2 linked regions of the Homo sapiens genome follow. The protein of the gene in region 2 binds, or shares a complex with, the protein of the main gene of each other region. Links are inferred from orthologs where the notes say so. Each region holds a gene or a part of one and is shown on either strand. Other genes may lie near its edges.

Evidence for each region.
Region 1: the proteins of PLXNA2 (region 2) and SEMA6A are in contact, whole or in part, in a crystal structure (PDB 3AL8), measured with the Mus musculus proteins. The link is inferred for Homo sapiens from one-to-one orthologs. Residues at the interface, in NP_032908.2 of Mus musculus: Ala93, Cys94, Tyr95, Pro96, Lys155, Gln192, Asp193, Tyr194, Asp220, Phe221, Val222, Pro229, Ser230, Asp231, Leu386, Lys389, Val391, Thr394, Lys395, Ala396, Pro397, Val398, Leu407, Asp408, Ile409, Asn410, Gln411; in NP_061214.2 of Mus musculus: Arg108, Met109, Lys110, Gly111, Met162, Ala163, Thr188, Phe190, Leu191, Ile193, Tyr198, Thr206, Arg208, His212, Asp213, Ser214, Glu219, Gln266, Arg267, Glu270, Lys271, Lys393.

Annotation. Positions count from the first base shown.
Region 1 is NC_000005.10:116,573,119-116,577,032, reverse strand, and holds the start of SEMA6A (semaphorin-6A isoform 2 precursor), read left to right. Parts: upstream 1-2,209; 5' UTR 2,210-2,848; intron 2,849-3,692; exon of another isoform or gene 3,693-3,914. UniProt on the Homo sapiens protein: Cell surface receptor for PLXNA2 that plays an important role in cell-cell signaling. Required for normal granule cell migration in the developing cerebellum.
Region 2 is NC_000001.11:208,021,689-208,024,645, reverse strand, and holds the end of PLXNA2 (plexin-A2 precursor), read left to right. Parts: 3' UTR 1-2,404; downstream 2,405-2,957. UniProt on the Homo sapiens protein: Coreceptor for SEMA3A and SEMA6A. Necessary for signaling by SEMA6A and class 3 semaphorins and subsequent remodeling of the cytoskeleton. Plays a role in axon guidance, invasive growth and cell migration.

The sequences.
Region 1 (3,914 bases), on a different chromosome or scaffold from region 2:
TGGTATTTCTTCACTGTGAAAAGTAGACTCCAATTCTTTAACTCTCGTATTCTATAATTTTAAATTAGGTAAATTTAATCGCTCGCTTCTTGGCTCAGCGTTACTACAAATTAAACATGCAAGTATTAATATTGAATATAATGTCCCTTTAAACAATATCCTGAAACTCGTTGTGGGGCATTTCCAATATATCCATAAAGCAAATAAAACAACTTAATTGTTTGTTTCTCTAAGGGAAGGAGCTAAACCCGAAATTAATTTAGTTCGGCCTGTGAAACAATTCGTTTGCTCTGCCTAATTCTGCCAATTTAAGAACTTTTCCCAGACACAATTAGCATGTAAATCGGCGGCGGGGAGCGAAGAAGGAGCCTCGGCGACCCCGGTTGGGTGGAGCGCGGGACAAAAAACCCCGGAGGCCGAAGGGTCCGGAGCTTCGAAGGGGCTGCAGTACCGCGCCTGGGGCGCACGGACGAGCCAGGGGACCAGCTCACACTGACCCTGCAGTCATCAGCCAAAATCTGGGTGTTAAATAGCGCAGCCGGGGATCCAGCCGTCTTGGCCGCCAGATCCTTCTCCTAACCCCGCGGGATTCTGAGGAGACGTCCTGGAGCCGGCCCCCACCCAACCCGCGGGAAAGCGCAATCCTACCCACCGCCCCACACTCCCCAACCCCCTCCCGAGGCTGGCTCTTGAAGCCGCGGGGGCTGCGCGCGCACCTAGGGCCGCGCCCCCCACTACCCCAGGTCTATAGAGGCCTTTGCCCGAGAAAGGTGGGGATAGCGGCCCCTGCTGACAGCTCTGGAGAACAGCAGGGGTACTGATTTTTTCTTTTTTTCCTACCATTCTCCCTACCTTTTCCAGGTGGTGGTAGTGGTGCGGGGGGAATGGGTGTTGACCCATGTGCATTTATTCTTCGTGAAGCCTCTTAAGCAGATGTCTGTACTTAGAGAAGCGACCAAAGAGGGAACGTGGACTTATTAGTGGTCTTAGTCCCAATTAGGGAACAGGTACAGTTTCCAATATAAAGAAACTCGGCCTAAGTGGGACTGAGACCCCGATCTCCGCACTTGCTTTTCTCAGCCAACTCCATGACTAGTAAATATCTCTCCGAGAACTGCTGGGCCGCCCGATGTTACTTTGTTTAAAGGTTGCGACTAGGATCCGTACCATCTGCGAAGCCCCCTTGGGGAGCAAGAGCCGCGGCGCGCAGTTGATTTCGGGGCGCAGCGGCAGGGGGAGGGGAACGTGGTGTGGCCCGACGAGTTGGCACAAGCCTGTAACTGCAAGACTTTGTAGCTATTGAAAGTTCAAGTGGTGAAAGAAGGCTGTGCCTGCCATTCTTCATGTGATCATAACAATAGCGCCTTGGAAGTGGTTGCGATTTTCTTCTTCCATAAACCTTTTGGGTTCTCACTGGAATTGTATGCGTGTTATTTCTGAAGTTTACTTATTTCTAAGACCAGTCCACAAAATGTGAACTTCATTAAGTTTTAAAATAGATCGCCGTCGTTAAAAACGCCATTCTCTGCACTGTAGTTTATTTGCTTACTTCACATGCTTTATTAACGTGTGTATGTGCGTAATTAATAGCTGTGTTCTTATCTTCCAAGTGTATTTTTAACCGCACCGGCTTCTATCCAATTCATCTAACTACGTAGAGCGTCCATCGCTTCTGGAATCTACCTCTTGATAACAGTAATCAGAATCAGAAAAGCTCGCCGTTCACTTACCCTCATCCTTTAAAACTTTTCCATTTAAGAAAATCGATGAACAAAACCTTTCTTGTAACTCGCTCCTGCACTACGTCTATTTTTATTTATTTTTCTGATTTGGCAGGACTCAGCAATGCTGTCCGGGATTTTTTTTTTCTTTTTTTTTTTCCTAGCTAGAGCAGATGTGGGGGTGGGGGAGGTGAGGGCTGGGCTCCAGCCAGAGTCGCCCCCGCTGAGCCTCCGCCTAGCGCGCGGTGGGGCCAGGAATCCTGGTGGAAGGAAGCGGCGCTGGCCAGTTGGTCCAAGGCTCCACCTGCAGCCACACCGCGTAGTTTCTCCGCCTCTGCCTCGCTCACTCGCACTCACATACACCACAGCTCTCCTTTGGGTCGGAGGAGACGCCAGCCAAAGTAGGCGGAGTTGCGGAAGGAGAGTCCGATCTGCGCAATCCAGTCCGGGACTTGGCTCCGCCCGGGAGCGGCGGCCTCTCCGGTGACAGAGGAGTAGTGAGCGGCACGGGGTGAGGCTGCAGCCAACTCCGCTCCCCGCGCACTCGGCTGCCCAGGCGCTCGGAACCCAGCAGCGGCGCTCCTCCGCGGTGCCGGTCGCCCGCGATGCCCGCTTAGCAGCGTGTAGCAGCGGCCAGCATCACCACACCCGCGGCACCGCGCTGCCGGCCGCAGAGCCGGGCCAGAGCCTTGCACCCCTGCCCCAGCCCCCACCCCGCCCCCCGCCCTGAAATGACTTGTTAATCGGCGCAGACACCACCAAGGGGACTCACCGAAGTGGAATCCAAGTGGAATTTGGATTTGGAGAAGAGTTTCTTGAACATTTACCCTCTTCCTTGTTGGTTTTCTTTTTCTTTTTCTTCTTTTTTTTTTTGGCTTCTTTTTTCCTCTCCCCTTCTCCGCTCGTCATTGGAGATGAACACATCGCGTTTGCATCCCAGAAAGTAGTCGCCGCGACTATTTCCCCCAAAGAGACAAGCACACATGTAGGAATGACAAAGGCTTGCGAAGGAGAGAGCGCAGCCCGCGGCCCGGAGAGATCCCCTCGATAATGGATTACTAAATGGGATACACGCTGTACCAGTTCGCTCCGAGCCCCGGCCGCCTGTCCGTCGATGCACCGAAAAGGTACGCCCCGGGCGCCCGGGCGCGCCCCACCTCCCGGGCAGCTGGACTCCAGCCTGAGGGTCCCGGGGCCGTGGCTAGCGCGTGCTGTCGGCTTTGTGGTGCCTGCGTTTTATTTTGTCTTGTGTCTCTGTTTCCCGAGCCTTGCCCGGTCCTGGGGGAGCAGCCGTGAGCCCTGCCTGCCTTTCCTCTCTGCCCTGCGCCCCAGAGTGCGTCCGGCTCCACGTCGAGAGCTTTCCCACCCGCGTTGCGCACACGCCCGGCGCCGCCCCGGGCCGCGACGGCGCGTATGGCTGTTCCTCCTGGGGGTGTGTGTGCGAGACCCAAGGCTCATCCTCCCGCGTGCCCAGCAGGGAGCAGAGCGGGCCCTAAATGGTGGGATTCTCGGAAGCTCCCTGGCCCGGTGTGTCGAAGGCAGGGGAAGGGGTTCTGCCCTCGAGGGCTGGAGGGGGTTGGGTATAACAGCGCTGTTTTCGTCCAGTGCCAGGTGGGAGAAGGGGTTCCGCGGAGACGGTGTGGAAGCGGAGAGAATCTTTTGTTGTCAGTGTGGGGTCTGGGCTGGGCTCCGTGGAGTGCAAGAAACTTGTAATGGCTCTAGGCACCCGCGCGCCCTGTCTCTCGGTGAGATCCTGGCTCCTGTGGCCGCTGCCACCAGAGGTTCCGGGCTTTGTTTGCTCGAATAAGTGTCCGGGAGCAGCCGTTCGGGTGACGCGGCGCCCCCGCCATGGGTCCTGTCCCCCGCCGCAGCTCCCAACCCGAGCGGCAAGGATATAGCCCGTCGCGGCTGCGTCCCTCCTGAAGCACCGAGCCCTTTGCACCGGGCTGGCGCACGGTACGCCCTCCTCCCAGATCAGCGCGGTCTCGCTCTGGAAAGATGACCCAGGAGGGGGAAGGGTGAGAGACCTGGCAGAAGATGGCCCTGGGTTTGAAACCCAGACTAGGGCTCTGTTCCGACTCCTCACTGTGTCCTAGGGCGCTACCATGGGGGCAATGGGGCGCTGGAGAGTAAGCCGGGCAGTGCCCACCCACCCTGCCTGATCCTTCTGGGGCGGGAAGTGTCTCTTGTCCC
Region 2 (2,957 bases):
TGGAGAGCGTGGAGAATGATGGGGCAATGGCCAATTGGAGGGTGGAGAGTGAAGAGCCGGAGCTGGCTGTGAGTGGTTTGGCCACATTTCTCAGGATTCCATGAGAGACTTGGGGAACTTGGGCTGACAAAGGAAGTAGCCTGGGGCATCCTTAAGGAAGGAATTAAGAAAAGGGAAAAAGCTGGACTCAAGCCACGCCATGAGGGTGAAAGGTTATAAGGCCCTGCCCCCTTTCCAGCTGCCCACCTGTTCCTCCTCCACACCTCTTCGCTTTGGGCCACCAAGAACCAATGAAGTCCACACCCTTTGGATGAGAAAAAGAGGGAGTTGGTTGGCCTCTCTTCTCCCTGTTATCCAATTTGAGGATATTTTGACCTTGGGTAAGGATGAAGTGTTAAAGCCACAGCTCCTCTCCACAAGAAGCCATTCATCTTGGGGGAGGCAGAGAGGGAAGTCTCTCTCCAAAGTCTATCCAGCTTCGCTTCGTTTCATTGATCTGCACAAGAGACAATGCTCTGGAAAAGGAAGAGGACCCCAGAAGGGTGCTTGGCAAGACAGAGGATGCTAATGGGCAATGGAGAGCACTCCCTCCAGCTGGCCCCTGCTGCTGCCTCCCGTCCTCTGCATGGGGTCAGGTGCTTCTGTGCTTGCTGTCCTACCTCTCTCCACAGCAGGGCTCTCAAAACCATTTTGATCCCCCATTGGCAGAGGGTTCCCCTCTTTACAGAGTTCAGTCATTAAAAGCATGGATCAGCTGTTAATCTCATTGGAGGAGGGAACTGTTTCCTGCATTCATTCATCTGGGAACCTTCTTGAGTAGCCACTGTCTGCCAGCCACTGCTCTAGAGATGGGAAAACAGCACGGAACAAAACCAAGGTCTTTCTTCCAGCGAATTTATATCCTTCAGGAAGCTGGTTCCTGCCACCAACTTAGCAGGCAACAGTTCTCCTCCCCTAGTGGCACAGGGTACCAGTTTTGTAGGAAAAGTGGTCCAGCAAAGGAAGAAAGCAGACCAACCCAGCTGCCTTACCTTATTCTGGGGCCATTCCCCCAGCGATGAGAGCTGCTCTTGTTTCTACTGCCACCATCTCTTCTGGCTGCACTTCACCTGCTGCTTGAGCTTCTGACCTTCCTTCAGTTCCACCAAATGAGGACAGGAAATAGCAGTCAAGACCCCTGGCCCTGCTGAGCGTGAAACAGAAGCAATGGATGAGTGCTGGACGAAGAATGGCCTGGGCAGAACAAATAGGGAGCATTTGAAAGCTTCTGGCTGATAAATCTCCAGGTGCATCCCGGTTGCCACGCCTGCCCCCATTAACCTGCTCCTGGTAAATACTGATCCAGCAGCTGCTCCAGGAGAGGCCGTCTTTTTTTCCCAGCCACGCTGTGTCTTGCATGAGACTCCTGGGGCCTGGGCACAGAGAGAAAAGAATTGAGACTCAGGAGGCTCAGTGGGTGAGAAAATGCAAAGTGGCTTCACAGACACAGGGCTGTGGGAGCAGATCGACGGGGAACTTGGGAGATGAACTTCAGGGCCTTCCGACGCCTTGTCTCAGGAACATGCTTTGAGAAAAATGGTAGCATCCTTTCCATAACTCAGTCTCTCTTCCCTAGTTTCCCTGAAGTGTGACGTTTTAGTATCTGGAGCTCAGTGATCCCCATGAATGAGGGATAAAGTTTCACTCTTGGTATTTTCTAACTAGTGCTAGGGAAAGTCCTGAGACACGATCACAGCCACTGCTTGGCATACAGGGCCTCCACCCAATAAGCAAACTGGAGATTCCTCAGCCTCTCGTGGACACCCACATCTCATTCTTCTCACAGCAGAGAAGCTCTCCCTTCAGCCTGAGCTGTCTTCTTTCTGCTGCAGTGCAGCCTGCTCCCTCCTACCCTGGCCTCAAGGAAGGTAGGAAACATCTTCTGCATTTCAAAGTCCTCACTTTGACTTATTTGGCCTTCATCTTGGCATGGAAGGTGGCAGGCAGAATGGAAATACTCCCCCCAAACAGAACAGATATTCTTGCGTGTGTAAGGGCAGAAGGGACAAGCTCTCTATCCCATGAGACTAGGGGCCGGAGCCCACCTGCCTTTCCCCACAACTTTTCCTGCTCAAACCCACTCCTCTTGACACACTGGAATCTGTATTATATATATTTTTAAGAAAATACAATGATGGTTGTCTGGTTTTGTTGTTTTTACAGGTGTTGTGGAATAAAAACTGTAAGAAAATTAAGTATTTAAAATGTTCCAATAAAGTGGGGTTTTTTGTTATTCTAATATATTATTGTGTACCTATTGTAAATATGAAACACTCCTATTTTGCAAGCTGAGGACACAATTTGTACTGTTGTTATATATAAATAAAGTTTACTGAATTAAAAAAACCTTAAATCTTTAAATAAACCCGATTGTTCAGCAGCATATATGCAGAATAACATTTTAAGGGCATATTTAAGAATGGTACTCATGGAAATATGAGCTAAGTTGTTTTGAGGGAGTTTTAGAATTCTCTCTGGAGCCAGAGCTTATTAATGTACCAGTCATCATCATCAACATAACACACACACACACACACACACACACACACACACACACACACACACACACACACACACACGAGATACCGTGGCTTATACCAGCAGGTGAACACTGCCCCCTAGCCCCAAGACCTCAGAATACAGCTTTCCTCCAACTGGAGGCAGCTAGTGTACTCCATGAGTTAGGACCCCTTCCCAGGAGAGAAGGGAGGTCTCAGAAGAATGAGATCCTCCTCTGCCTCCATGCTTAATACATGTTCTTCATGTGTTTGTACATTCATGTATACAAAGTGCATTCTTGTGCTTGTACAAAACGTATTAAGCACGGCCTGGCACTGTGGTAAGTGCTGGGGGATAACATAATAAGTGAGAAAGACATGATCCTTGTCCTCATCAACCTTTTAGTGTAGTGAAAAGCA